Regions from separate parts of the Homo sapiens genome. Here all the other regions are linked to region 2. Evidence: fine-mapped expression QTL. A gene starts in region 2. Each other region holds a variant in brackets. All regions are shown on one strand. Distances are from middle to middle.

Region 1 (5,000 bases), 40 kb after region 2:
TATGGCTATAAATCATAGAAATAATAAAGTGAGAAATGTATCAAAGGTCTTTGGCCTTTTAAATAGGCATCTAAAAGCCATTACTAAGTTTATAAAGCATATTTCTCTTTATTTTTTGTTGCATAGGTTTTGTCAGGTTCTTAGAAGGCTATTATATTGTGTTAATAACTAAAAGGAGGAAGATGGCGGATATTGGAGGTCATGCAATCTATAAGGTCGAAGATACAAATATGATCTATATACCCAATGATTCTGTACGGGTTACTCATCCTGATGAAGCTAGGTATGTATGGTGGTAACTACCTTTTTTTTTTTGGAGACAAGGTCTTGCCCTGTTGCCCAGGCTGGAAGGCTGGAATATAATGGCATGGTCATAGCTTGCTGTAGCCTTGGCCTCCCAGGCTCAAGTACTTTTTTTTAATGTCGTAGATCAGGTAGAAAATAAAATACAGTTTAGATATTATGAATGTTATGTAAAAAGATCAAATGTTGGCTCAGAATTTTAGAATTTTTGTTAAGAGCTGTTAAAGACTCCATTATAGCAATTGGCAAGAATCAACAATGGCTACTATTAGGTGAGAGGTTGTTATTGAGGAATAGAATAATCACATAGTCCCAACATTTTAAACTCCATGGATCTCTTTGTTATTTACAGAGGAATAAGTATTTTTATGATGAAAAAAACAGCAGACATTCTTATCCAAATAATCAAACTTCACATCACCAATAATGAGACGAAACTGACATTGTTTGACTCTCAGTGGGAAGGACACAGTTTACCTTAGTAGTTAAATATTGCTAAAAATATTTAACTTGAATCTAAGCATGGGGAAATAATCAGATAAATACATACCACTGGACTTCCTGCAAGATAACTGGCCTAGATTCTTAAAAGAATGTAAAAGTCATCAAAGACAAAAAACAAAAGACTGTTCCAGATTTTTAAACAGACGTGACAACTAAATGCAGATTTTGGTCGGATTCTGGGTTAAAAGTGCATGTACTTGTACACACATCCTCACACAAAGATCTAAAGGGCTTTATTTGGACAGTTTGTATGTGGACTACATACTAGTGATCTTGAATCAGTATTTAAATTTGGAGTATAATAATGGTTTGCGGTCACTGAGGAGATTGTCCTTGTTTATAACAGATACATGCTAAAATACTTAGGAGTGAAGTGTCATGATGTCTGCTACTTACAGTCAAGTGGTTTAGAAAAATAAAATGTATTTGTATATTTAAAGAGAGATAATATTTGTTTATGTGTTTAAGGAGAGAGCGCTAAAAGTGAATTCAGAAGAAGGGCATAGTGGTGTTAATTGTACTTTTTTTTCCCTGCAATTTTTCCTGTATATCTGAAATGTTCAAAAGTTTTGGAGGAATTATTGGAACCTTGGAAACGTGGGAAAAGCTATTAACAAATTGATAAAATTGTAAAGGTTGAATTGATTTAATATTATGAAGATTAAAATGGAACAAAGAAATATTTATAAGTTTTTAGGATAGGTAACAGTTTAGATTTTAATTATATCCTGTACTTTTGTAGTGTTCCAATACATGAACCAAAATTTAAAGGTGATGCAGCCCTGTTGCTTGAGACCATCTTAGACAGTGGTTTTCTGAGCCCTTGTGATGTTGCTTTTGATGATGATTTGGAAGGGGGTTATTAGAAAATAATTTGTTTCATTTGAGGATAAGTACAGTTTATCAGAGTAGACCTTTGTCTTGCACTAACTGAAAAAGGTTATATCTGATACAGCTGATAGGAAGGCCTATATAGTGTATTGACTAAAAGTGAATCAGATTGACCAGACCATGCGAATCCAGGGATAGGAAAATTTCAAGAAGTTAATGTTGTTTATAAGTCTCATCTTTATGATACTTTAGCCAAGAATACTAATACAAATTATGTTGTTGTGTACAGTGATTTGGATATCTTTAAAGAATAAAATTATGAGTAATAACATGTAAATGGACTTATTCAGAATAAGATACAATTATATTAATAGTTTTTTATAGGTAAACTGAAGTAATATTACTAATTAGGAAAAACTTTTAATACTTATAAAACTATATAATCCAATAGTGTATCTAAGCAAAACTATTTGGTAAAATATTTGGAAATAAAATACAGTACTATTAAACATTTCATACATAATGTTTATCTCTGTAATGCATGATTGTTACCAATGTTAGAAAATTTACTAGAACAGTTCACCACATTAAAATATTGCTGGAAAAATTATCTTCTTAATGTTTGCAGAAAACATATTTGACAAAATTCAATACCCATTTGTGATAAAAGGTTTTAGCAAACTAGGAATATAAGCAGACTTTCTTAATCTGATAAATGATACCTATTAAAAACCTATATCCAAAATTGTTCTTAGAAGTGAAACTTTAAAAGCATTACTTTTAATCAAGGTAAGGAACAATACAGAGGTATCTGCCGTCACTACTAACATTCAGCCTCATACTGAAAGTCCCTAGGCAGTGCCACAAGACTAGAAAAATAAGGCATAAAGCTTGAAAAGAAAAATTACTGTCATTATGCAAACAGCATCATTTCCTACTTGGAAAATTTGAGAATATCTACAAATTCTCGGAACTGATGAAAGAGTTCAGTAAGGTGACTAAGAAAAGATGGCTGGGCATGGTGGCTCATGCCTGTAATCCCAGCATTTTGGGAGGCTGAGGTGGGAGGATTGAGCCCAGGAGGTTGAGGCTGCAATGAGCCATGTTTGTGCCACTGTACTCCAGCCTAGGTGACAGAGTGAGACCCTGCCTCAAAAAAAAAAAAAAAAGATTAAAAGAAGAAAAAAGAAAAGATCAACATGTAAGACATACAGGAACCAGTAATATTTCCACACACTAGCAGTAACGAACTAGAAAATGTATAAGGTACCTGCCAATAAATATAACAAAAGCTATCCAAAACCTTATGGAAAAAAC[T/G]TCAAACATTATTAAAAGATTTTTTAAATCTCTACATAATTGGAGAGATGTCCCTTTTTCATGGATGAGTCTTGATATCTTGAAGATGTTAGTTTTCTCCAAAATTAATTTATAATTTTTTTTTTTCTTGAGACAAGGTCTCACTCTGTTACCCAGGCTGGAGTGCAGTGGTGCAATCTTGGCTCACTGCAGCTTTGAACTCCTGGGCTCAAGTGGTCCTCCCACCTCAGCCTCCCCAGTAGCTGGGACTACAGACACATGCCACCACGCCTGACTAATTTTTGTATTTTCGGCAGAAATAGGGTCTTTCTGTGTTGACCAGGCAGGTTTTGAACTCCTGGGCTCAAACAGTTCTCCCACCTCGGCCTCCCAAAGTCCTGGGATTACAGACATGAGCCACAGGGCCTGGCCAGTTTATAAATTTAATGTAACATTGATCCAGATTCCAAGAGGATGTTTTGAGAATGGAACTTGACATGATTTTAAAAGTCATATGGAAAAGCAAATGTCTAAGCATGGTCCAGACAATTGAAACAAGAAAAACAAGAAGGGATAAAGTCAACAAGATGGTAAGACCTATAATAATTAAGATAATCAGGTAGTAAGCTATAGTAAATAAGACTGCTAAGTATTGGTGGAGGAATTGATGGGGGTCAATGAACAGTGTTGAGAAAGCCTAGAAAAAGATCCATTTTATGTGGCAAACTGGAATATGATAGAGTGAGCATTACAAGTCATTGGGGGAAAAGATGGGATAAATAGTGTTGGTTTTCCAGTTGGACAAAAATGAAATTTGATTCCATTCTCTGATAATATTCAGGAAGCAATTCCAGAAGTACAAAGATAATTTTAAGAAAATAAAGGTAAATATTTTTATAATCCTGGTATGGAAAAGGATTTTACAAACAAAATACAAAATGCATAAACCATAAGGCAAACAATGCTATATTTGATACTGTAAATATTCAAAATGTATTTATAATCTAGACAAATTTTAGGAAACAAGCAGCAGTCTGAAAGTAGATATTTGTAACATATAACAATGATTATTATTTAGAATGTGGGAAGAATTTCTACAAATCAGTGAGAAAAAAATACAACATAACTGAGAAATGATTAAAAGGAACAGGCAGCTCACAGTAGAGATTCTGAACCTTACCTAGTAATTTGGGAAATGCAAATTAAAAAGGTACCATTTTATTCTCATTAGTCAGTTTGGGAATAATCAGAATATCTGCTGTCATCAAATTATAGCAGAGATGTGGGAAATGAGTTGTATACTATGAGTTATACACTATGAGTTGGAGTGATATTTTAACCACTTAGAAGAACACTTTGGCAATTCCAGCATAATTGAAAATGCACGTTATCTATAGTGCACAGTGGTTCTTGTTTCCGTGTATCTGCCCTAGAGAAACTCTTGCACATGTGTATGGGAAAACATGCATGGGATGCTCTTGGCAGCATTGTATCTTATAGTGGAGAACTAGGAAGAACCTAATGGTCTATCAGCAGACAATGGATAAATAAAGTGTGTCATGTGTAGTTGGCTTTCCTTATCCATGGGTTCCACCTCTGTGAATTCAACCAACCACAGATTGAAAATACTTGAAAAAAACTGTGTCTGTACTGAACATGTACAGATGTTTTTCTTGTCATTATTCCCTAAAGAATAGAGTATAACAACTATAGAATTACGTAGCATTTACATTGTATTAGGTATTATAAGTAATCTGGAGGTAATTGAGAGTGTACAGGAAGATGTGTATTGTGCATTATGTGCAAATACTATGCCATTTTATATCAGGAACTTGAGCATCTGCAGATTTTGTTATCTGAGGGAGGACCTGAAACCAATCCCCCACAGATACCGAGGGATGACTGTATATAGTGAAGACCAAACATTGATTACAAAGTGAACAAATTAAATCTATAACTTTCAACGTAACTAGGTTTCAAAAAATGAGTGAAAAAAGTAGGACAGTATACAAAGTTTGTAATGATTTGCATACATATTTTAAATATACAATATAATGCTATGTATT
Region 2 (8,200 bases):
CTATGTAACAAAACTGCACGTTCTGCACATGTACCCCAGAACTTAAAATATAATAATAAAAAAAGAAAAAGAAAAGGCCAAGTGGAAGCTCATGACATTGCATACTGGGTCCTCCACCCCTGGGCAAGATAACCAAGAGTAAATCATTCTGAATGAAGAGTGATACCAACCACAATTTAAAAGATGTACAATCCTGCTTATTTCTCCAGTCTTGCTTTTGTAGAAGCTAGACAGAGCACAACAGATGAGGGTAGACTTCTGCAAATTTAACAAGCTGGTAGTCCCAGTTGCAACTGCTGTGCAGATGGGATCTTTACTAGATAGACACAGTCTCTTGTATTTTTTACGCAGCTGATGATCTGGCAATGTGTGCATCCTTTTCAATCCCTATCAAGAAAGAGGATCGGAAGCAATTTGTATTCACTTAGAGCAGTGACAGTGAACATCCAGTCTTACCCAAGGACTCTCCTGCTGTTTGAGACAATATAGTATAAAGGGGTCTTGATCCACAATATTGACAATATCAGACCTAGTGAGCAGGAAGTTGCAAGTGTCCCGGATCCCCTTATAAAGACACATGAGCAGTAAGTATAAAGTGAGAGATAAACCTACAAAGTTTGAAGGTCTTATTACTTTGGTAAAGTTTTAAAAGGCCAGTGGTCTGGGACATTCTGTCCAAGGTAAAGGATGAGTTACTGTACCTTGTACCTTCAACCTCTAAAAAAGAGGCACAGTATTTTGCAGGCCTCTTTAGTTTTCAAAGAGAGCATAAAGCGCACTAAAGAATACTGTTTTGACCCATTTAGTGGGTGACATGGAAAGCTGTCATTTTTGAGTGGGGCACACAGCAAGAAAGAGCTCTGTAGTTTTAGGTTGTAGTACCAGAGGCTTTGCTTCCTGGGCCATACATCTGGCTAGATCCCACAATACTAAAGGTCCCACAATGCTGTGGTATGTAAGGATACCTTCTGGAGTCTTAGGAAAGCCACAACAGGAGCCTCTCTCTGTAGATCCTTGCTGTCTGCAGCAGAGAATAATTCCCCATTCAAAAAACAGCTCTTGGCATGCTCTTGGGCTCTGGTAGAGAATGAATGCCTGGTCATGGGATATCAAGTGACTATGCAACTGGAAGTATCCACTATGAGCTGGTTATGTCAGACAAGTCAAGTCCTAAAGTCAGGCAGGCACTGCAGCAACCCATTAAATGATAAAAATGGAACAATGGGATCAGGCTCAAACAGGTCTTCAGGGCACAAATAAATTTCAAAAATAAGCAGCCCAGATGCCCATGTCACCTGTCTCATGCACCAATGTCTCTTTCAGCTCACACCTCATGTGGAATTCCCTAAGAAGAGCTGACAGAAAATGAAAACAAAATTCATGGATGAATCACAATATACTGGTAAAAGCTGTAAATGTAATGCTTCCAGACATGAGTTCCTCTCACAAGTGGCCCTGAAAAATGGTGATTAGGGGAAATCTTCCTGGCAGGCAGAGCTTTAAGCAGTATTCCTAGGCCCTCAATTTGGAGGACAATGCGGATTGGTTTCATCAAGGGCCTAGAAGGTACAAGATCAGAAGGTAAGAGAAAAAGAGTTCTGGGGAAGAAGCATGTGATTGGGCCTATGAGGGTGGTGTAGCAAACACACCCTAATCTGACCTCCAGTGAGTCACACCCTTGCATAATCCTCTTCCTTTGAGTGGGAGTGGGGTCTGTAACTTGCTTCTAAATAGAGCAAAGGTGACAGAATGTCTGTCTCATGAATATGCTACATGGTATAAGACTCCATTTTAGGGGACTGGAGGGAGACTTTCTGTTGGCTTGGAAGAAGTAAGCTGCCATGTTGTGAGAGGACCACGTGATGAGGAAGAGTGGGTGGCATGTGAGTGCAGCCCCTGCCAACAGCTGGTAAGAAAACAGTGACCTCAGTCCTACAACCACAAAACGATGATGCTTGCCAACAATGTGAATCAGCTTGGGAGTGGATTCTTCCCTAGTCAAGTCTCCAGATGGAAGCACATCTCAGCCAACACCAGATTGCAGCCTTGTAAAACCCTGAGCAGAGGACCCAGGTGAGTGATGCCAGGGCTCCTGGCCATGGAAACCGTGCGATCACAAATGTGTGTTGTTTTAAGCTGCTAAATTTGCAGTAATTTGCTATGCAGCATAGAAAACTAATGTAAGTGGATGTAAAATACATAGATATTTGTATCTCAGAAAGCATCCACCTCAGAAGAGGCACTGAAAAAACCAGGTGGACAGGATAATTTATCCAGTAGACATGAGCCAATCTTTGCTTCTGGTCACCTCAATGCTTGCATAATGGGTTTGTAAATGAAGTAGGCATGGTGGCAGGGATGAAGGTGATGAAGGATAGGCATGGGCTCATATCAAGGCCTCCTTTCACCAGGCTGGTTTAGCTACACTACTGCTGCTGAATGTTCTACCTGTTCATGGCAGAGACCTGTTCATATTAAGCCCTCAATACGGTACAACCCCTTTAGGAGACAAAACATTCATTCAGTGACAAATTGATTACAAATTGAGACCTGTTCATATTGAGCCCTCAATATGGTACAACCCCTTTAGGAGACAAAACATTCATTCAGTGACAAATTGATTACACAGGACCCCTTCACCTTTAAAGGGGCAAGTGACAAATGCTCCTAATATGGGCTTGTTTTTCCTACCTGCAGTGCCTTGGCCAGCACCACTACCTAAAGGTTTAGAGTATGTCTCATTTATCTTCATGAGATCTCATATACCATTGCCTTGGATCAGAGGACCCTTTTTACAATACCACTTTACCTAGAAGCTACTGGTTTGACAGAATGTTGGAATGGTCTCTTAAAGGCACAGCTAAGGCGCTAGCTTGGGATTGTGTGGGATTGAGACAATGTACTTCAAGATGAGGAACATGCTTTGAATCAAGGGCTGGAAGTAGGAGTGACCCCTCTCACTAATACTCTCAGTGATTGACTTGGGAAATTTGCACCTCACTTCTGGACAAGAGGTCCTGGGTCTGGTGGAGGGGAGAGATGGTTCTATCAGGGGACCCAGTAAAGGTTTCATTAAATCTTAAAACTACTGCTGCCACCTGGTCATTTTTGACTCCAAAAGCTCATAAGGAGTTATTGCACTGGCAGATGGAGATAGGGTTGCTGCTATGTGATTGGATGAGATTGGGGGTGCTCAGGGTGGTATGGCCATAAACTGCTAGATAAGTGGGATAGGGGATGCATTTCTTGAACTCAGGGGATTCTCTGAGACAGCTCTTGATGCTTTCATGTCCAGTGAATGGGTAATTGCAGCAACCAAAACCTTACAATGACACAGTAACCAAGGGCTTATGCTCCTCAGGGATGAAAGCTTGTTATCCTACTGGGCAAACACAGACCAGCAGAAGTGTTGGCCAAGAGTAAGGAAAATCTAGAATGATGTTAGAGGAAGGAGATGATCAATTAGAGACCTCAGATTAATTGCAGTAGTGGATTCTGCAGCTTGTCCCATTAATCTTTTTTTTTGTAAGTCCTTTTCTTTTAAAAATTGAGACTAGCCACTACCTTAAAGAATTAGGGTGGCATGGTGTGAACTTGATGTGGAGGAAGAATGGATACGAGTGCTGCAAAGGGTGGAATGTAGCAGCTGCTATTAGTGCCTCCCCCATATCCACTTGACATACACCTTTTCTATGCACGACCAGCCCAACTTCCAAAATGTTAGCATGTGCGACTTTTTGCCTAAGGGCTTTCTCTGGCTGCCAGAACCTACTCTCCCTGAACACAGGGTAGACTGGAAGTTCTAGGGCATCAATGTTCTGCCCTATCAGGCTTCATCCAATAACTGATGGAAGTTGGCGAATAAATACTCCAGCTTCCTTGCCCCTCAAGAGGGGATAACTGAGACATGCCTCCCAGTATTCCCTAGTGAATTCAGCCCACAGAGAAATTTCTCTGGTAATATTTCCTTTATTAGTTTTCTTCCCCTCCCTGCTGCTGTTTCCTGGGATTACGTCTCATATAAACAACCTGCCTTCAAAGTTTTGTCTTAGGATCTGATTCCGGGTGAAATAAACTAAGATAAAGTTAAAATGGAAGTGCTAAACTATAATAATTGAAAACTAGAATCCTTCAGGTATTTTAAGAGTTGCTATCCTAGATAAAAACACTGTGCAAACATTTAACTAATATTCAGAAGAGTTGGTTTCATTATGAAACAGAACACAGCTAACTATTTTTCCCAGTTAAAAGATCCAAGTCCAAAATGCCAGAACGGACACGGCCATCCTTCTAGTTCTTAATAAAAGGAGTACCAAACTACAGGGGGAAAGAAGCGCAAAATAACATAGACTTAAGTATTTCTTTACAATTTTTGTAATTTCTCAAATTTTAATTTACAATATGATCTTTGGTATTACATGAATGTTATCTGGGTATGCTATAATTCTATAATTTTTTTTTAAAGTTTCCTTACACTTAGCAGTTGAGAAGCCCTCTAGCAGAGGTTTCTGAGGTTTAGAGGTTTCCTGGGAAACCTAGAATTGCCGCCTAAGATAGGATAGCTGCCTCTCCCCTACATCTTATACTCTTGCAGTAGGTGTTCAGTAAATATTTGTGGAATAAATACTTCAGTCGTTGAAAGGAGACGTGGTTTTAAAAAGTGGATTTACAAAGAGACCGTTTTGCAAGAAAAGAAGCTGGTCTGGGGGTCCCCGCAGGAGGCGGGGTTCCGTGCAACAGATACCAAGATGCCTCCAGGGCGGACCACGACCCAGCGGGCCGCCGGAAGGCTCCTTACCTGGCCGCAGCCGGACCCTCCTCAGGGAAGCAACTGCCTCCAGGGACTCCGCGGGGCTGTCGGGCGGTTGCCGGGGAGACCTCTGGCCGCCACGCACCTGCTGCTTGGTGGGGCGGGGCCTCGAGAGGCGGGGCTGTAGTTCTTTGTCATTTCTTTTCCAATTCGAAATAGTCACTTTTGTACCTAATTTGGCATTTATAATTATAATACACTCATTTTCACAACTATGGAAGAGAGGGTACGCGCATGCCCATTTATGTCGCACACATGAAATGAAGAAACCTCATTTCAAGCGCGGCTCCGCCACACTGCGCTAGTCTCTGTCGACAACTTCAAGTGGCTAGCCTCACGCACAAACGTGTGGCAAAGCCACACTTTCCAGCTTTAGGTGATTTTAAAACAATTTCTTGGGCCACACAGCGTAGGTACAACATGGATTAGAGGTGAGGGGAAAACTGACACTCAGTGAAGGACCGTCAGAGGGCCGGCTTCCAGGAAAATGGGCCGCAGCAGGCAGGGAAAACACAAGGATCTATCCTGCAACTCGGAGAACCCTTTTCAAAAGAAGCTACCCAATCCCAAACCTTCCGCTTTTTTCCAAAGAGAGGGAGGAGATAAATAGACTCAATTAATCCGTCGACTTTTTCTCCGCCCATGTTTTCCTCCAATCCTTACCAAAGATGGTGCCCTTCGCTTCCTCTCTCGGCAGCACGCAGGTCCCGGGAGCCTCTACCCGACCTCTCTATGATACGTCCTCCAGCCCCGCTCCCGACGTGAGGGGCGGGGCTTGCCTGGAGGCGGGGCGCAGGGATCCGGAAACACCTGATCATCTATAGGTTTAGTGCCTAATGGGTGTTGTTCCTGGCTGGACTTGATGTCCAGGGCCTGAGGGGTTTTCTCGCCGAGTCTCCTGGGGCGGTCCGGAGGCTCGTGCCCTGTTGTGGGGCCCCCATTTGCCGCCGCCATGCCCACGGCCGCCGCCCCCATCATCAGCTCGGTCCAGAAGCTGGTTCTGTATGAGACTAGAGCTGTGAGTACCCCCTCGCGGCGGGGCGCAGGCGGGAGGATGGATGTCTGCCGGTGGGTGTGGGGCCGTAGGACAGAGGCTGTACTCTGCCTCCTCCTCCTTCCTCTCCAGTTCCCAAATCCCTGTCAAACACAGCCTTGGGGTAAGCTAGCTCCCTTGAGCTGTGCCTGGGCGCCTTTCCCCTATTTTGGTACCCTGGACATTGCAGCATTTGCAGGTCCACTTACAAGCCATGGCTGGAACACGCTGGAAACAGGTGCTTGTGGTACCTCAGGAACTGTTCATGAGGTTCTCTGTACGAGTTACTGGATTCTTTTCAGCTTTCAGAAAGTCTGTTAAAGTTCTAGAGTTCACAAGTTACAGTACAGGCAGGGGTATGAAAAAAATTTGAACTATGACTTGTAACTTATTTTTTCCTATTCCATGGTATACCATCACTGCGATTCATGTGAATTACACTTCTATTGGTGAACTTTTTGGTTCTCTTTTTTTCTTATTTGAAAGGAAAGGAAAACTTACTTTGTTTAAAGACAGATAATTTGTTTGGATAACATCTTGCTTTTCACTTGACTTTTTTCAACATAACATTTACTTTTAAAATTTTATTACTTTGAATGGCCATGTAAATAGTGAATAAGCAGATCAGTTTGTATTTCGATTACCAGTTCCTCAATTAAGGGAGAATGGTGTTTATATAACTTCATACTTGGTCCTTTCTGTGGGTGGAAAGCAAAGTTGGTACAGTATAGCTCTTCTAAATTGGGGTGCCACAGTGATATTAGGGACTGTGTTTAATATTACCCATTTCATGCTAACAAGATTGCATATGCCAGATATTTTCATAATGCTCTTCACTATGTTATAGAGTGCTTTATAAACTGTTTCTCTGAAACTTGGGTTGTCTCCATTAGAGGAGTATGAGAAGGCATTTAACAGTTTCTCAGTTATAACGTAGTCCTAATAGCACAATAACCTCTCCCTCAGGTTAACATGAGTAGAGAATTGTGGACCTTAAATTAATTTTGCTGACAACTTTGATTAGATCTAGAGCAGAAAATGACATTATCAAATATACTGTATTTGCAAGTATTTTCAGTTCTCTAATGAGACCCATAAAGAAGTATCATTTGTCATTGAAATGAAACCTATTTTCTGTAAAATATGCTGCTAAATTTCCCTCATTAGAAACATAAATAACTTTTTTTTTTTTCCCTTTGAGACAGAGTCTTGCTCTGTCACCCAGGCCGGAGTGCAGTGGTGCTATCTCGGCTCACTCACTGCAACCTCTGCTTCCCAGGTTCAAGAAGTTCTCGCACCCCAGCCTCCCAAGTAGCTAGGATTACAGGAATGTGACACCATGACCGGCTAATTCTTGTGTTTTTAATAAAAGACAGGGATTCTCCATGTTGGCCAGGCTGGTCTAAAACTCCTGGCTTCAGCCTCCCAAAGTGTTGGGATTACAGGCATGAGCCACCGCATCTGGCCGTAAATAAAACACAAATTTCAGCCCATTAAAAAGCTGATCACTCATGAGGACTGCGTGAGATATTAGTGTTCAGAAAGCACAATTCATATTATAGGGCTCTTCTGCTCAGAAATCTTCAGTGGTCCCAATTCTGAAGCAAGTAAACTCTGAATCCCTTAGTTGGCATTCAAAGCCATGTATTATTTGTCCTCAACTTGTCTATCTAGTTTTACATCTAATTTAATATCAATTAATGAAACATTTATTGAGGATCAACCATGTGCCTTCATATGCCTTATTCTGCAGTAAAACTGTATTGCTTTCAGTTCCCTATATCTGCCCTGTGTTTTTCTGCTGTTCTCTATTCTCTTAATGCCACACCCCCTCTTTTCCTGTCAAAACCTTGCTGATCCTCACAGCACATATCTGGTCATGCCTTGCAAACAGTAGTCTCTCAATAGATGTGGATTAAGGAGCTCTAACACAAAGAGATAGAGGTGTGTTCCAGAACTCAGCTGTGACCCCTCTCAACTGCCTAAGTAATGGAAACTAACTCTGGCCAGCTTAGAGACAAAAGGTAAATTTATCAGAGGGATGCTAGGGGAGCCATTGCATGGTATCCAGCTTCTGGAAAAGCAGGAAAGAGATAACAGGTTTGAGAACCCTCTCAGAGTACTGCCAAAAACAGTGTAGGTGCTGGGAGAAAAAATCTGATCGACTCAACTATGATTGGTTATCATCCCCTGAGTGGACAAATCATTCATGGCCAGGGGGGGTCTGGCAGGAATGATTTAGCTGTGGAATCAGGATCCTCTTTGTTTCAGCAAATGGTTGGGGCTGGGCAACCACCCTTGAAAATGTCTGCTGCATTGAATCACTGAGTCTCGGTTTTGTTAAATAATTTTTTTTT
Region 3 (8,386 bases), 350 kb before region 2:
TTCCATTTTTCTTTTCTATTGGAAAAAATATAAAGACATATGTAAAATATGTAAAAATATAAAAACATACATAAACATCTGTTTACGTATGTTTTTGTGGATAACTTTTATTCCCTAAATTCCTAGAAGAGGAGCTACTAAGTCAAAAGTCACAAGCATGTAAAATCTTGTCATATATTCTGTCAGCTTGCCTCCAAAATAGATTCTGTCTCCTCTCCCCAGCTGCAGCGAGTGAGCCACTGTCCTTACTCTCCTCCATCAGGGCTCGTCTTACTGCTATTTGCCATCTCTGCTAGTTTGCCTCAATAACTTACCTTGGCCAAGCCCATGGTAGGCTTTCACTGGAGGTCAGTGGAGCACTGGGGTTGCAATGATAGGACAGTGCCCTGGGCCTTCCAGGACAAGCAAATCAGAGCCAGGAGGATCCCCTAGGCTCAAAGGACAGGCTGGCTTCAATGGTAGATGGCCAGGGAGCAGGAGCCGGCCTGACCCCAGAAGTGTCACAGATAAAACTCACGTTACAGTGTAGGCTGGGTCTTAGACTTGGCCCCATAAACTTTCTCACCCCCCATCCCTGCAGATAGATACACACACACACACACACACACACACACTCATTGATGCACAGAGGGACAAACACACTCGCATAGATATGCAGGTCCTAGTTAGGTAGGTCTGTCCTACCTTCCAAATATTGGCTCCCATTTCTCTCCAGAACCTAAATCTAAGCCTGCCTTGGAAGGTTGGGCTGTTCCTTAATTGCCACCTATTCAAAAAGTATGCTCAATCTCCTGGAGAAAGGGAATGAGTGGAATTGCCTAGAGAATGAGCTGTGTGGCCCTTAGACCAGAGCAAGAGAAGCCCCTGCCAGATACCCCATATACCAGAGGGCCCCTCTCTGGCCTTTCTCCAGCCATGACCTTCCCCACAAGGTAAGAAATCCCCTGGGCCACAGGGACATATCCACTCAGAGCCCTGGCCTTCATTTTAGACCATGCTCCAAGTACCTGGGACCTGGAATTCCCTGAGTCCCTGGCCTGAATGGGCCTCCTCCCTGGATCACCTTCCCCCGAGTGAGAGTGGACCTCATCACTAGTGTGCACACCCCTGGCCTGGAAGTGGCCAAGAGGCGACTGGGCGTGTGGATGGAGTTTGGACATGCAGGCTAGGATGTCCACTCACAGGCATGTGAAGACCTCACAGCATGACATGAGGCCAGAGCTGGGAAGAGAAGGGGGTCACACTGTAAACTACAGGTTGGGGACCAGCCTTCCCCAGGTCACCACACTACAGCATAGAACTGAGAGTAGTCGGCCGGGTGACTCTCACACCTGTAATCCCAGCACTTTGGGAGGCCGAGGCAGCTGGATCACCTGAGATCAGAAGTTTGAGACCAGCCCGGCCAACATGGTGAAACCCCATCTCTACTAAAAATACAAAAATTAGCCGGGTGTGGTGGTGCACCCTTGTAATCCCAGCTATTTGGGTGGCTGAGGTGGAAGAATTGCTTGAACTTGGGAGGTGAAGGCTGCAGTGAGCTGAGATCACACCACTGCACTCCAGCCTGGGCGACAGAGTGAGACCCCGTCTAAAAAAACCAAAAAAAACAAAAAAACTCAGAGTAGTCCAGGAATAATAAATTCAAATCTGGCTTTCCAGGTCATTTTTCAGGTCTGTTTTTCAAGGTAGGAGAATTAAACATTTCATTCTGATATTTTGTTAGTTTGATTTATAACCTTTCAATGTTTTGACATGCGCTATGTGGGCTTCCATTGTCCTCGTGTCCTTACAAATGTTCAAAGCTGACTTGAAAGAGAGGCTTGCAAGGCTAGAGCCCATGGTTGGATATAGAGGAGAAACAAAAGTGGGTCTGTGAGCCAAGGCAAAGAGTGCCTGGGGCCCTGGCATGATGAGGCTGCACTGCTGGAGTGGCTGTGAATAATGAATGCCTCTTTCCTTTCAGATCACTTTCAGGAAAGATCACCTTGAGGCCTGCCTCCTTTCCCTGGGTTGTGATGTGATGGCAAGAGAATGCAGCAACTTTGAGACCTACTCCATGTGCTATGAGCATGTGTTGCATCATGCTAGGCAGAGGCTCAGCCAGAAAGAGCAAGTAGGTTCCCAGAGAGAGAAGAACTGCAGTGGGGAATGGGCATGGGCAGGGAGGCTCAGGAGGCACTCAGAAGAGAAAAGTAAAACTGAGGGGGTTGGGATACATACAGTGGTTCTTATGCCAGAACTGAGGGTGAATGGTACCCTCAAATCTCTCTACTCATTGGCTCAATCATTCTCCTGGGCTCTGGTATTCTCAGTTGCACACTAGGTTATGTGCTTGGGAAGTGTCCAGTGGAGAATACGAAAGGTGAGCAACAAAGGGGCTGGCCCTGCAGGGGAAGGTACATAGCTGTCCTTTCCACCCTCAGCAAACACAAGGCACCGTGCGCTGTTCCTGGTCTGGGAAAGAAGCCAGGATCCTTGAGTAAACTCTCTCTTCAGGATGCATGTCATGGGTCAGTCTCACTGGGAGACTTCCTTAAAATATGAGCCTGCTGGTGGGATGGAAGAGTCAGTCCTCCTGCCCTGGGCTGCCCACTATTGTGAAGGTAGATTGCATCAGAGATTTAGTGTGATTTTAGTTTATACCTTAGAAAAGTTCAAAAGTCTAAACCACTAGCCAAAACACCAAATGAAGCATTGAAATGATGAACAACGAGCCTTGGAGCCACCCCTATTTTGGGCTATCCCCATTACTCAGTTCTTGGCATCAGTGTGGGTACCTGGAAGTCAATGTTGTCTTTTGAGGCTGTGTTAGGCATCCTGAAGTCCAGTGGGGCAACTCACACAGTCTCAGCTCCAGGCACAGCCTAAGGTTCTCAAAATGGGGCTCCATTAACACAAATAGGAGGTGTTTGGAATGTGTTGTACTGACCTGAGCCATGGTTGGAAGACTAAATGTTAGAGTTTGGTTGTGTACTGCTTTCTCCTGCCCAGGAATTAGATGCTACACAAAGAGGCCAGGGTCCACCTGAAGACAGTGCTGGCCAGGTAGGTCATTTCCTATTAAAAGGTTCTCTTCTCCATTTCTCACATCCACACTCTCAGGGCTAGCCAGCTATGGGATGCCTTAGAGTCATTTGCTTGTGTCACCTGTAGAAGTCCCGTCAGTGAAGGTCCACTGCAGGAACACCAAGGAGTGTGCTTTCACTTTTGGTGAGCAACCCTCCTTAGGGTGCATTTTTTTTTCTTGAGTTTTTTGGTCGCTTTTGTTATTTTGTACTGGTTTTGTTTTGTTCTGTTTTTGTTGTTACTTTGGGGAGTTTTGTTGTTGTTTCTTGTTTTCTTTTGATGCCAGTTAAGGTGCATTCCAGGCCAGACGCGGTGGCTCACGCCTGTAATCCCAGCACTTTGGGAGGCTGAGGTGGGTGGATCACCTGAGGTCGGAAGTTCCAGACCAACCTGACCAACATGGAGAAACCCCGTCTCTACTAAAAATACAAAATTAGCCAAGTGTGGTGGAGCATGCCTGTAATCCCAGGTACTCGGGAGGCTGAGGCAGGAGCATTGCCTGAACCCGGGAGGTGGAGGTTGCGGTGAGCCAAGATCGCTCCAGCCTGGGCAACAAGGGCAAAACTCTGTCTCAGACTAAATAAATAAATAAAATAAAATGCATTCCAAAAAAGAAAAGGGATGTTTGGGCTGAGGTGTCAAGGGGAGGCCAGTTTGGAAATGGAGGCCAAGACAGTTGAAGTATTTTTCTCTAACTGAAAAGGGCCTATGTAGTGGCTTTTCTGGGGTCACTTATTCACCAGTCAGTGTCTGGCACTGTTCTGGGACCTTTGAATTGTCCTTAAATTCTTCTGCCCACATTTATTTAGCAGAATGTTCACTCTCTTCATTAGGTTTAAAATAGAAGTGAAATTCAATACTGATCTATAAGAAACTATTTTGTAGTAGCAGTTTGAAACTCCTAAATTGTTTTTC[T/TCACACACA]CACACACACACACACACACACACACACACACACACACACACACATTTTCTCATGCTTCTAGATTGCAGAGCTCAGTCATGATATGATCATGGAAATCACCACTCTGAGAGCCCAACTCACAGACTTGGAAGAAGTGAATCTGAATCTCAAGAAGCAGATTAGAAAAGAAGTCCAAGAAGAATATGAAGCATTAGTCCGAGCTTTGTTTGAGACCTGTTTACACATAAAAGTAAGTGTCCCGTGTTGAACATCTGGGCCACCCATTGGGTAGCCGAGTGTAACGGATTCCCATGGTGGCTGCACACCCAGGGATCGATGACAGAATAATGGGCTTTGTAGTAACAAGAGATTGTTAGGCCCAAGAATTTTCTAGCTCTAAGCTTTCACTGCAGAAAGAGAGTCAGCAATGGGTTGTCATTAACCACGATAGACACTGAATTTGGGGATAATATAGAAGTCTATCTTTTACCCTCTATTGACAGTTGCTATTGTCACTGTCTGATTGCTGTTGGGAGGACAGAGTGTTCTGCTCCCCACAGTCCCTCACCTCCCCAGTTTCTATCACCATTTTATCTGTTAGTGTGACTTTCCAGACTACAGTGCCTGGGCCAGGCCGGACCTTACGTAGGTAGCAGCAGGTGCCTCTGGAGAACTCCCTGGACACATTCAGAATTTGAATCAGCTTCCACATTTTTTTCCAACCCTCAAAATGCCTGCCAGCCTCACTCTCACATTCAATGTCAGCAAACTGCTGACCTGTCAGCAAAGACCCATTGCAGAAGTGATGGGGTACGCATGCACCCGCAGCACTGTGGAAGCCAATCGCTTTCATGTGATGTTTGCACAGCCATAAGATAGATGCCCCAAGCCTAAAATGGGCCATCAGGGAGACTGGTCCAGCTGACTCACCAGTGTGAATTTCAGTGCAACCTACCACCTGCAAGTCCACAGCTTCCCCCAACCCTGTCCCCTTCCCTGCTATTGGATACACCCCAAAGCCAGCCCCGTTTGGGTCCTTGAGTCTCTCCCCAGGGATTGCAGAATGGCCCTGAGGGTTGTTAGGTTAACAGGAGCTTCCACCAGTACTCACCTTGGCCTGGTCATTCCAGCGAGAATTTCCTCTTACTTGCAGTGTAAATGCTTACACATATTAAGGGATCGAACCCAAAATGTATTAGGTCTGGTGCTGCAGGAGAAGGATGGGCAGACAGTGACAGCTGGAATTTGCTAAGCCATCTTTCAGGTGTGAGATTGTTGAGAAATGTCTTAAGTTCCTTTTAGCTTCTGCCAGATTCCCAGTTAAAAAGTAGATTCTCTCTGTTTCCCAGGCTGAAGTAGTTCCACCAAGCCTCCTACAGTAGGGAATCCCTGTTATATTCCAGGGTCCCACGAAGTTGCTAAAGCTTGTGTTGTGTGGCCAGAGCCAGGCTTCCCTCCGTGGCTCCCAGCTGGGCACCCTCCTCCTGCCTTCCTCTCCAGGGAAGTGGTTTAGAAGTGAGAGGACACCCCTACCCTACCTCTCACCCCAGAGACACTGGGTGTCTTAGTCTGCTCAGGCTGCCATAACAAAATATGATAGGCTGCACAGCTTAAACAACAGAAAGTATATTTCTCACAGTTCTGGAAGCCAGAAGTCTGAGATCAGGGTGCCAGTGTGGTCTGCTTCTGGCTGAGGGCATGCTTCCTGGCTTGCAGGTGGCTGCCTTCTCACTGTCCTCACATGGGAGAGAGGGAGAAAAAGAAAGGTCTCTCTCTCTCCCTCTTCCTATAAGGCCACAGTCTATTGCAATAGAGCCTCACCCTTATATCCTCATTTTAATCTTAATTACCTCCTAAAGATCCTATCTCTAGATACTGTCACATTGCTGGTTAGGGTTTCAACATATGAATCTGAGGAAGACACAATTCAGTCCATAGCACTGGGTCTTCAGTCGTACTTACCATTGATCAGGCTGTTTCCTCACAAGCCATTTAGCCAGAAGCCATTCAGAACGGAATATTTCCTAATGGGGTTTCTGCTAGATCCTAAATAGGAAGGCAGCCAGCCTGACTCCCTCCTCCACTTTATCTATATTTAACAGAGCTCCTCAGGAGTGGCTCATCTACAGTGTCTTGTCTGCTCACATTCTACTGTGAGTCAACATAGCAGCAAAAATCTTTGGTTCAGCTTCCCAAGTAACTCTTACCAGGGGCAGTTTGGTCAGCAGGTTTTCTACCTGTGTGACCTTCCACTATCCTCCTGGCTCAGCTTGCCTTGGTGTTGACAAGGAAGGCACAATCTAAGATGTGCTGGTGTCCAGAAGATGAAGCCCTGTGAATAAAAGACAGCACTCAGGGGGCTGCTAAGTGTGACTTCCTTATAGTACATGTCAGAATAATTGTCTGAGGAGGTGATATCTTAATGTGAAATTACTTACAAAAGTTAAGTTGTAGAAGGCAAAATGGCTTTTCTTCAACTACCCTTCACACTACCCAAATCCATTTTACTTCCTTGACTTGATTCTGCAATTTGCAGGAGAAGCTGGATGATAATCAGCTTAATTTGATCCAGAAAGTGTGTGAGCTCATCGGTGAAGTGAGAACAGAAGGGATTGACAATATGAAGGACCTAAAGAAAAAATGGTGCTCTGCCAGCCCCGATGAAGGAATGAAAGAAAACCCAGCCAAAGTATGTGATTTCATTTAGCAATGGGATATCAGCGTTTCATCCTAGCATCTGACTCTACCATTCACCCTGTTAGCATTCCAGCCTGATTTCCCTGAGAAAGCATTGCATCAGGCATTTTAAAGGGGGCACAGGGACGCACTGCACAATTGTGTCATCTTCTGGAAGGCATGTTTCTGATGTTAGGGTTTGTGCCCTTCCTATGAAAATGTTGGGGGCAGCCTTTCCTGAAAATGAGCCTTCTTAGCAGGAACAGCTGTGGGCCTTGGAGCAGGACAACTGCAGCCTGGCCAACCTGGTGTGCAAAGTGAGGAGCCTGGGCCGCTGGAGGCTGGCTGTGCAGCAGGCGTGCTTCCAGGCCCAGCTGAGCAGGACAGAGAAGGTGAGCTCTGGTGGGGGAGACCCAGACAGTCCCCAGGATGGCTGATCCCAAGCCTCCATGGCTGCAGCTGCCATGGTGTCACTGTAGCTGTGAGTGGCACTGGTGTCAGGTGGTAGGGCCAACCATCCTGAAGGACCCGACGGTTGGCGATTTTTCCTGGGAACAGGCCATGTGAGAACTTCAGGAGAAACAGAAAGGGGGCAGAAGCAAAGGGGGCAACAAAAAACAGATCAGAGAATTCAGCATAAGGGAAGGAAGTGAAAAGATGGAGGAAAGGCTTCACCAAGGCCTTGAGGCTGCTTTGTCAAAATACCGCATATCTTTGGGTTTCATACATGAGTATCTGAGGAAAATGAAGTCACAAAATAATAAGTGAGAAATCTGCTTTAAGGTAAATTGAGTCCAAAGCTCATATTGATAGCTATTTGGAAACTTTCACATCCTGTTTCTGAAAGTATTTACTCTCATATGTTACCCTCTTCTGAATTAAAATCATGGAAGCAGGCTGGACATGGTGGCTCATGCCTGTAATCCCAGCACTTTGAGAGACCAAGGTGGGCAGATCACCTGAGGTCAGGAGTTTGAGAGCAGCCTGGCCAACATGATGAAGCCCAATCTCTACTAAAAATACAAAAAAATTAGCCGGGTGTGGTGGTGGGCACCTGTAGTCTCAGCTACTCAGGAGGCTGAGGCAGGAGAATTGCTTGAACCTGGGAGGTAGAGGTTGCAGTGAGCCAAGATTGTACCACTGTACTCCAGGCTGGGTTGACAGAGAAAGACTCCATCTCTAAATAAATAAATAATAAAATAAAATAAAATCATGGAAGCAGTGACTAGCAGGAGCTCCCTTCTACCGGAAGTTTGAAAGAAGAATGGATGGGAAAGTGGTTTAGATACTGCTTTTGAAACTAAACATCTGGAAAGGAAACCTATTTCCTATCTTACTGTGTTTGGGATATTTACAGGAATCTATTCAAAGTAAAAAAGAGTATTTGCGCATCAAGCTGATGGCAGAGCGAGAAGTGGGTTTATTTCGTCAGCAGGTCCTGGCTCTCAGGCAGGCCCTGGCCAGGGCACAGGCTGACAGCGCGAGGATGTGGAAGCAGCAGGACAGCCAGGTATCTGAACCTCAGAGCCTCTTCCTCATTCCCTTTGCAGTTAACTCTGCAAAGCTGAACGTGGCCACCACACTTGGTGCTGTGGCTGTCAGGAGCAGTCACCAGAGCACCACAGCCTGAAGCCACACAGATGGCACAGCCAGGAAAAGATAGCCTGGACTTGGGCTTCCCTTCTCCTCCCTCCTCTCCAGCCCAGAAACCAAGGGCGGTGGCCAAAAGGCTATTGTTCTTACTCATGT
Region 4 (5,000 bases), 96 kb after region 2:
GTTCCGCACATGTACCCCTGAACTTAATGAAAGTTGAAAAAAGTAAATAAATAAATAAATTCTGCTAAATGTAAAAATTAAAGACTGCATTGGCCCATTTCCAGTATCAGCTCCATGTTTCACTGTTCCTTAAAGATTATAGATCTCAGCTACACCGGGACACTAGCCTCTTGTAGAGACGCTCTAGCGCCTCCTTCTGTCTTCTGGGTTGTACACAGTTCCCTCTTGTGTTTTTTCTTTCAGGTGCGAAACTTGTTATGGCTAGGGAGGATAGAAACAGTACTGGAATTAAGTAGCTCTACTTTCTCTGTCATTGCTTTCAGCTTGGCACTTTCAACACATAGAGCAGTGTCTGACACATAGCAGGTGCTTAATAAATGTGGAATAACTGAATGAATTCTTCACAAGCAGCAGCCTTATCCTTGCTCTGTTCTTCTCATATTCAAAGCCTTGTTATTGAAAAGGGGTTGGAGGATCTGCCCCTTTGGTTTTGCTCAGGAGTTTGTCATAGAGGCAGAATCTCAGGCCCCACCTACTGAATCATCTGCCTTTTAACAAGATCCCAAAGTGATTTACATGCACATTGAATTTTGAATAGCACTGCTGTAAAGCATAACTTCAGTCTAAAACAAAACTTTAGGAACCTTTCCTGTTAGAACAGTGATTTGCCCCACACAATTCATTAGGCTTCATATTCCTTTTTTCATCATTAGTGGTTGTGTATTCTGCTTGCCATCCCTAGGAGAGTTCCCTGTGTTGCCAGTTTCATTTGGATACTTTCCTGTTGCTTCATAATCAGGATTATTCAAGATTGTAATTTCAGCTTTATATTTTTAGAAAGCCTTTCATTTATATTAAAATCTCTTTTTAGCAATTTTTGGCTATAGGCTCTTTTTTTAATCTTTAGAAATCTGATTTTTAAAAAATTCTTCTCCTTCCTAGCTCTCATGAACTTTGACATATATCCTTTTCCTCTAAATATTCATTTCATTAGAATTTGATTGAGAATTAAATTAGGTGTTCAGAGAGAAGGCCACTTAGGATTCTTTCAGATTCTTTGCTTATAGCAGACGAGCCTTCTAGCAGAAATCCAGACAGGTGACATTCTTTACTCTTACTCTGACTAGCTTCTGTAATCAAGTAGCACATATTTACAGTTAAAGAATAACGGTCTATACTGCTTTCTAAGGGAACTTGTTCGTTAGGACTGTCTAATTCGTTCCTTAATGATTTTGCTTAACTGTTTTAACTATACACACAGGTGTGTACTATACAGCAGAGTAGATTCTAACTATCAGATAACTACACGCAAGGGAATCCTGGTTGTAGGACTTGGGTCAAGGTCCCACTACTCACCTGGTGGCAGAGTAAGTCACTGTAGGCACAGTCCCTGGGAGAAGTTAACAGCAGTTCATAGAGTCAGCTTATTACCTTCTAATCCTTTTTAGCTAAAAGTAAATAATATCAGAGCATCTTGACTCTCAGGTGTATTCATGGCATTTTTGTAGATCTGCAACATAGTTGAAGGAAGAAAGCAGTTGGGAAGGGAATTACCATGTTGAAGACCTACTGTGTCAAAAGCTTTGCAAACATGTTTTAAAAAGAAAAATATTAACTTTGAAGTAGGAACATGTTACTATAGACCATATAAATTATTTTATCCAGTAAATTTTAGAAAACCAACATTTACATTTGGTTCATCTTTTTTTTTAATTTTTATTTTATAGTTATACTTACTGGTGGACACCAGAGGTGATAAAGCATTTACCATTGCCCTATGATGAAGGTAGGTAACTGTTTGTGTTTTAGTTTTTACACTAACATATTTTGGCATTATACCTTAATGAACTTGAAGCATTAAATCCTTTGCACATAGTATTTTATTAGAAACAAATGAATGGCTGTTCAGTATTATGTTGCTGCTTTAATAGATAGGATATTATAACATCTCTTAGCTTTTTAAAGGGCAGGAATTATATTATACTTCTTTTTATCTATGTAGGCCAATACCTTGTATTGTGTCTTACAATTATTATGTGTCTGTCAAATATTTAGTCAGTAAAATATGATATATCGGCTCATCACTTTAAACTAATACAGTTTATATTTCTACATATTTTGGGAGAATGCGGAGGAAGTAAGGACCTATTCACAAG[G/A]AGAACTTAAAACTTTTTTCCTGTGCTAATAAGCAGTGAAAAAAGGTACAGATGCATGTATAAAAGTACATTTTAGTCACATTTAAATTAAATTTCATTAATTTGTCAGAGGGGCAGGAAACATTCTATATTAAAGGAAAACCTTCAAGTGTATAATACATTAGAATGATGTTTCCAAATTTAAATAATTGCCAAATTTTAAATAAAGCTTAGTTCTGGCTTTGTTACTAACTCCCCTGACCTTGAGCAAGCTCATTTTCCATTTGGTAAAGGGTTCCTAGCAAGATCTCCTGCGAATCTGGAATGCTCCAATTGAGGACTCCATCTAGTCATGCTTCAGCATCCCAACTTTGGGTGGGGAAGGCCATAAAGTAAGATTACAAAGTATTTTTGGTTCTTATTAAGTTATAAATTCATTTTGGAAGGTATTTGTAACTTGAAATTCTGGGCAAAATCATTACTCATATTGCTGAAAAGGTTTAGTTGTTCTGGGAGAAAGGAAAGGGTTTTAACTAACAGTGGCTATTAACAGAATTTGAAATATAAAGGGAAACTTAGGGAAAAAGCTGTACAATTTTTAGCTAAAACACAAAGGGCATTTATTTAAGAGCAAAAAGGAATTTAAAGAACCTCCTCTAAATAACTGCCTGCTCCCATTGGACTTCCTGAGGCCCTCCTGGCTCCTTAGAGCTTGTTGAACTCAGCTTTGCATTGTATTTTCTATGCATCTATCTCATCTCCTTTCTAACTGTGTAAGTGTTGGAGGCAGGAGCTTACCCTCGGTCAGGGCTGTATCCCCCACAGAGCTTATCACAGTGCTGTCTGTGAACACAGTTAATATTATGGAAATGTTTGCTTGCTATAATCTCAGACTTTTAGAGTAACATGCAGTATCTCTCTTAGTTATCTGTGCTGTGAACTTAAAGAAGTTGATAGTGAAGAAATTCCACAAATATGAAGAAGAGATTGATATCCACAATGAGTTCTTTCGGCCATATGAGTTGAGCAGCTTTGATGATACCTTTTGCTTGGCTATGACAAGCTCAGCACGGTATGTTGTGTGTATTCTGATACCATAAGTATTTGAGAACTGTAGTTTTCCTAGTTTGTATATATATGTCTGTCTTTACCAGAAATCCATTCTGTAGGCCTTCTGTCAGGTGGGTAGTCCACCTTTGAATACCTCCTGTGATGGGGAGCCCACTACTTCAAGAGGCAGCCCCTTCTATTGTTCTATTGACAGTTGGAGTTGATTTCTCCCCTTTGATAGGTTGAAATCTGCCTCCTATTAGTCCTAGTTTGCCATTTGGAATAAACTCAGTTTTTTCACTGAACATAGAAATTGAGAGTTGACATAAATTAGTGGGAAAAGCATCATCTTTGGTACTAGAAAGGCTAGGATGTGAATCTTAGTTCAGCCACTTCCTGTGTGACCTTGGGAAAATTATCCAACTTACCTGAGCATTATTTTCTTAATCTGTCTTTCTCTGTCTCTCTTCTTTCTCTCTCCCCCACACACACACGCCCCGCAAGTGCCTTTGTAGTGCCTGGTACAGGCAGGTGATTGATAAATGGTAGCTATTATTATTACTATTATTATTAGTCATAGGACAAATCTAGTTTCTCTTTTGCCTCAAGATATTTGAGGAAGCAGTATTCATTTTTTCAGGGTAAATATCCTTCATTTGTTCTTCCATAACTTATGTGGCATGGTTTCCATTCTCTCTCCATCCTAGTCTCTCACCTTCAGACACATTTCATTCTCTGTATCTCTTTTAGAATTTGATGGGACCCTTTAGGAAAAACGCTGGGACCAGAATAAGAAAATCGAGCAAAGAAAATTACTTGTTATATTTTATACTAAAATTTAATTTTTTATATTTCACATTTTCTTCAGATGTGGTATTTATATGCTTATACTTTGTGTGGTACATAGAAACATATTCTGTGGTTTTGTTTCCTAGAAATCACTCTACATTTTGCTTCAGTTTCAGATAGTTAGGAACAGTTCGAAATTCTTACTTGCTTGATTTTTCAAGTAAACTTGTTAAGGTTTAGCAGTTTTAACTATGAGACCTTTGTCATTTCTAGAAGTTGTTAACTCAGCAAAAGATAAATGACATTAGGTATATGTGTTCATATACATATAAACCCTCACTTCACATCTTTGACAGCTTCTTGGAAACTGACTTTAAATGAAATGATGTCGGAAAAAACAACATTATTTAAGGACCTGCTGTACATTGTTTCACTGGAAGTCATAGTTTCCAAGAACCTATCAATGACATTAAGTGAGGACTTACTGTAGTTAATTGTGTTTGTGGTAGCTGTGTTCTATAAAGTCATTGCAAACACTGAATTAGTAAATACTGGACCATTGCTTCTAAGGGAAATACAGGGTTAGGTTCCTGAGAGCCTCTGGTCACATCATATTTGTCAACCAATCAATACATAACCTAGTTTTGTGTATGTTTTTGTTTAAAGACAGAAACGTAGTTAATATACAATCAGTCCCTGCCTTATAATGATTCAACTTACGATTTTTCAGCTTTACAATGGTGCAAAAGTTACATGCATTAGCTAGAAACTGTTCTTCGAATTTTGAATTTTGATTCAAAATTCTTTATAATAACTTTACTATAAAACAGGCTTTGTGTTAGATGACTTTGCACAACCATAAGCTAATGTAAATGTTCTGAGCACTTTTAAGGTAGGCTACACAAAGCTATGATGTACAGTAGGTTAGGTGTACTAAATACATATTCAAGTTACTATGGGTTTGTCAGGATGTAACCCCCATTCTAAGTTGAGGAGCATCTGTATATTGTTGATTTATTAACATAA

The links.
Region 1: its variant is fine-mapped to the expression of FIG4 in whole blood (INTERVAL, PIP above 0.99).
Region 3: its variant is fine-mapped to the expression of FIG4 in whole blood (INTERVAL, PIP 0.96).
Region 4: its variant is fine-mapped to the expression of FIG4 in prefrontal cortex (BrainSeq, PIP 0.95).

What each region holds. Positions count from the first base shown.
Region 1 is chr6:109,726,983-109,731,982 of GRCh38, forward strand. It overlaps FIG4 (FIG4 phosphoinositide 5-phosphatase), which reads left to right. Exons shown (of 23, transcript NM_014845.6): 4 at 127-283. Among named protein-coding and RNA genes, the nearest start is that of FIG4, 38 kb to the left of the region's middle. The variant T/G (reference allele first, on the strand shown) is at 2,956.
Region 2 is chr6:109,685,674-109,693,873 of GRCh38, forward strand. FIG4 (FIG4 phosphoinositide 5-phosphatase) reads left to right here and starts at 5,623. Exons shown (of 23, transcript NM_014845.6): 1 at 5,623-5,828. The coding sequence starts at 5,763. It overlaps AK9 (adenylate kinase 9), which reads right to left and starts at 5,529. Exons shown (of 41, transcript NM_001145128.3): 1 at 5,474-5,529. RefSeq lists a silencer at 1,340-1,540 and an enhancer at 5,107-5,576.
Region 3 is chr6:109,334,405-109,342,790 of GRCh38, forward strand. It overlaps the pseudogene CCDC162P. Among named protein-coding and RNA genes, the nearest start is that of CD164, 44 kb to the right of the region's middle. The variant T/TCACACACA (reference allele first, on the strand shown) is at 3,982.
Region 4 is chr6:109,783,243-109,788,242 of GRCh38, forward strand. It overlaps FIG4 (FIG4 phosphoinositide 5-phosphatase), which reads left to right. Exons shown (of 23, transcript NM_014845.6): 17 at 1,728-1,786; 18 at 3,060-3,207. Among named protein-coding and RNA genes, the nearest start is that of FIG4, 94 kb to the left of the region's middle. The variant G/A (reference allele first, on the strand shown) is at 2,157.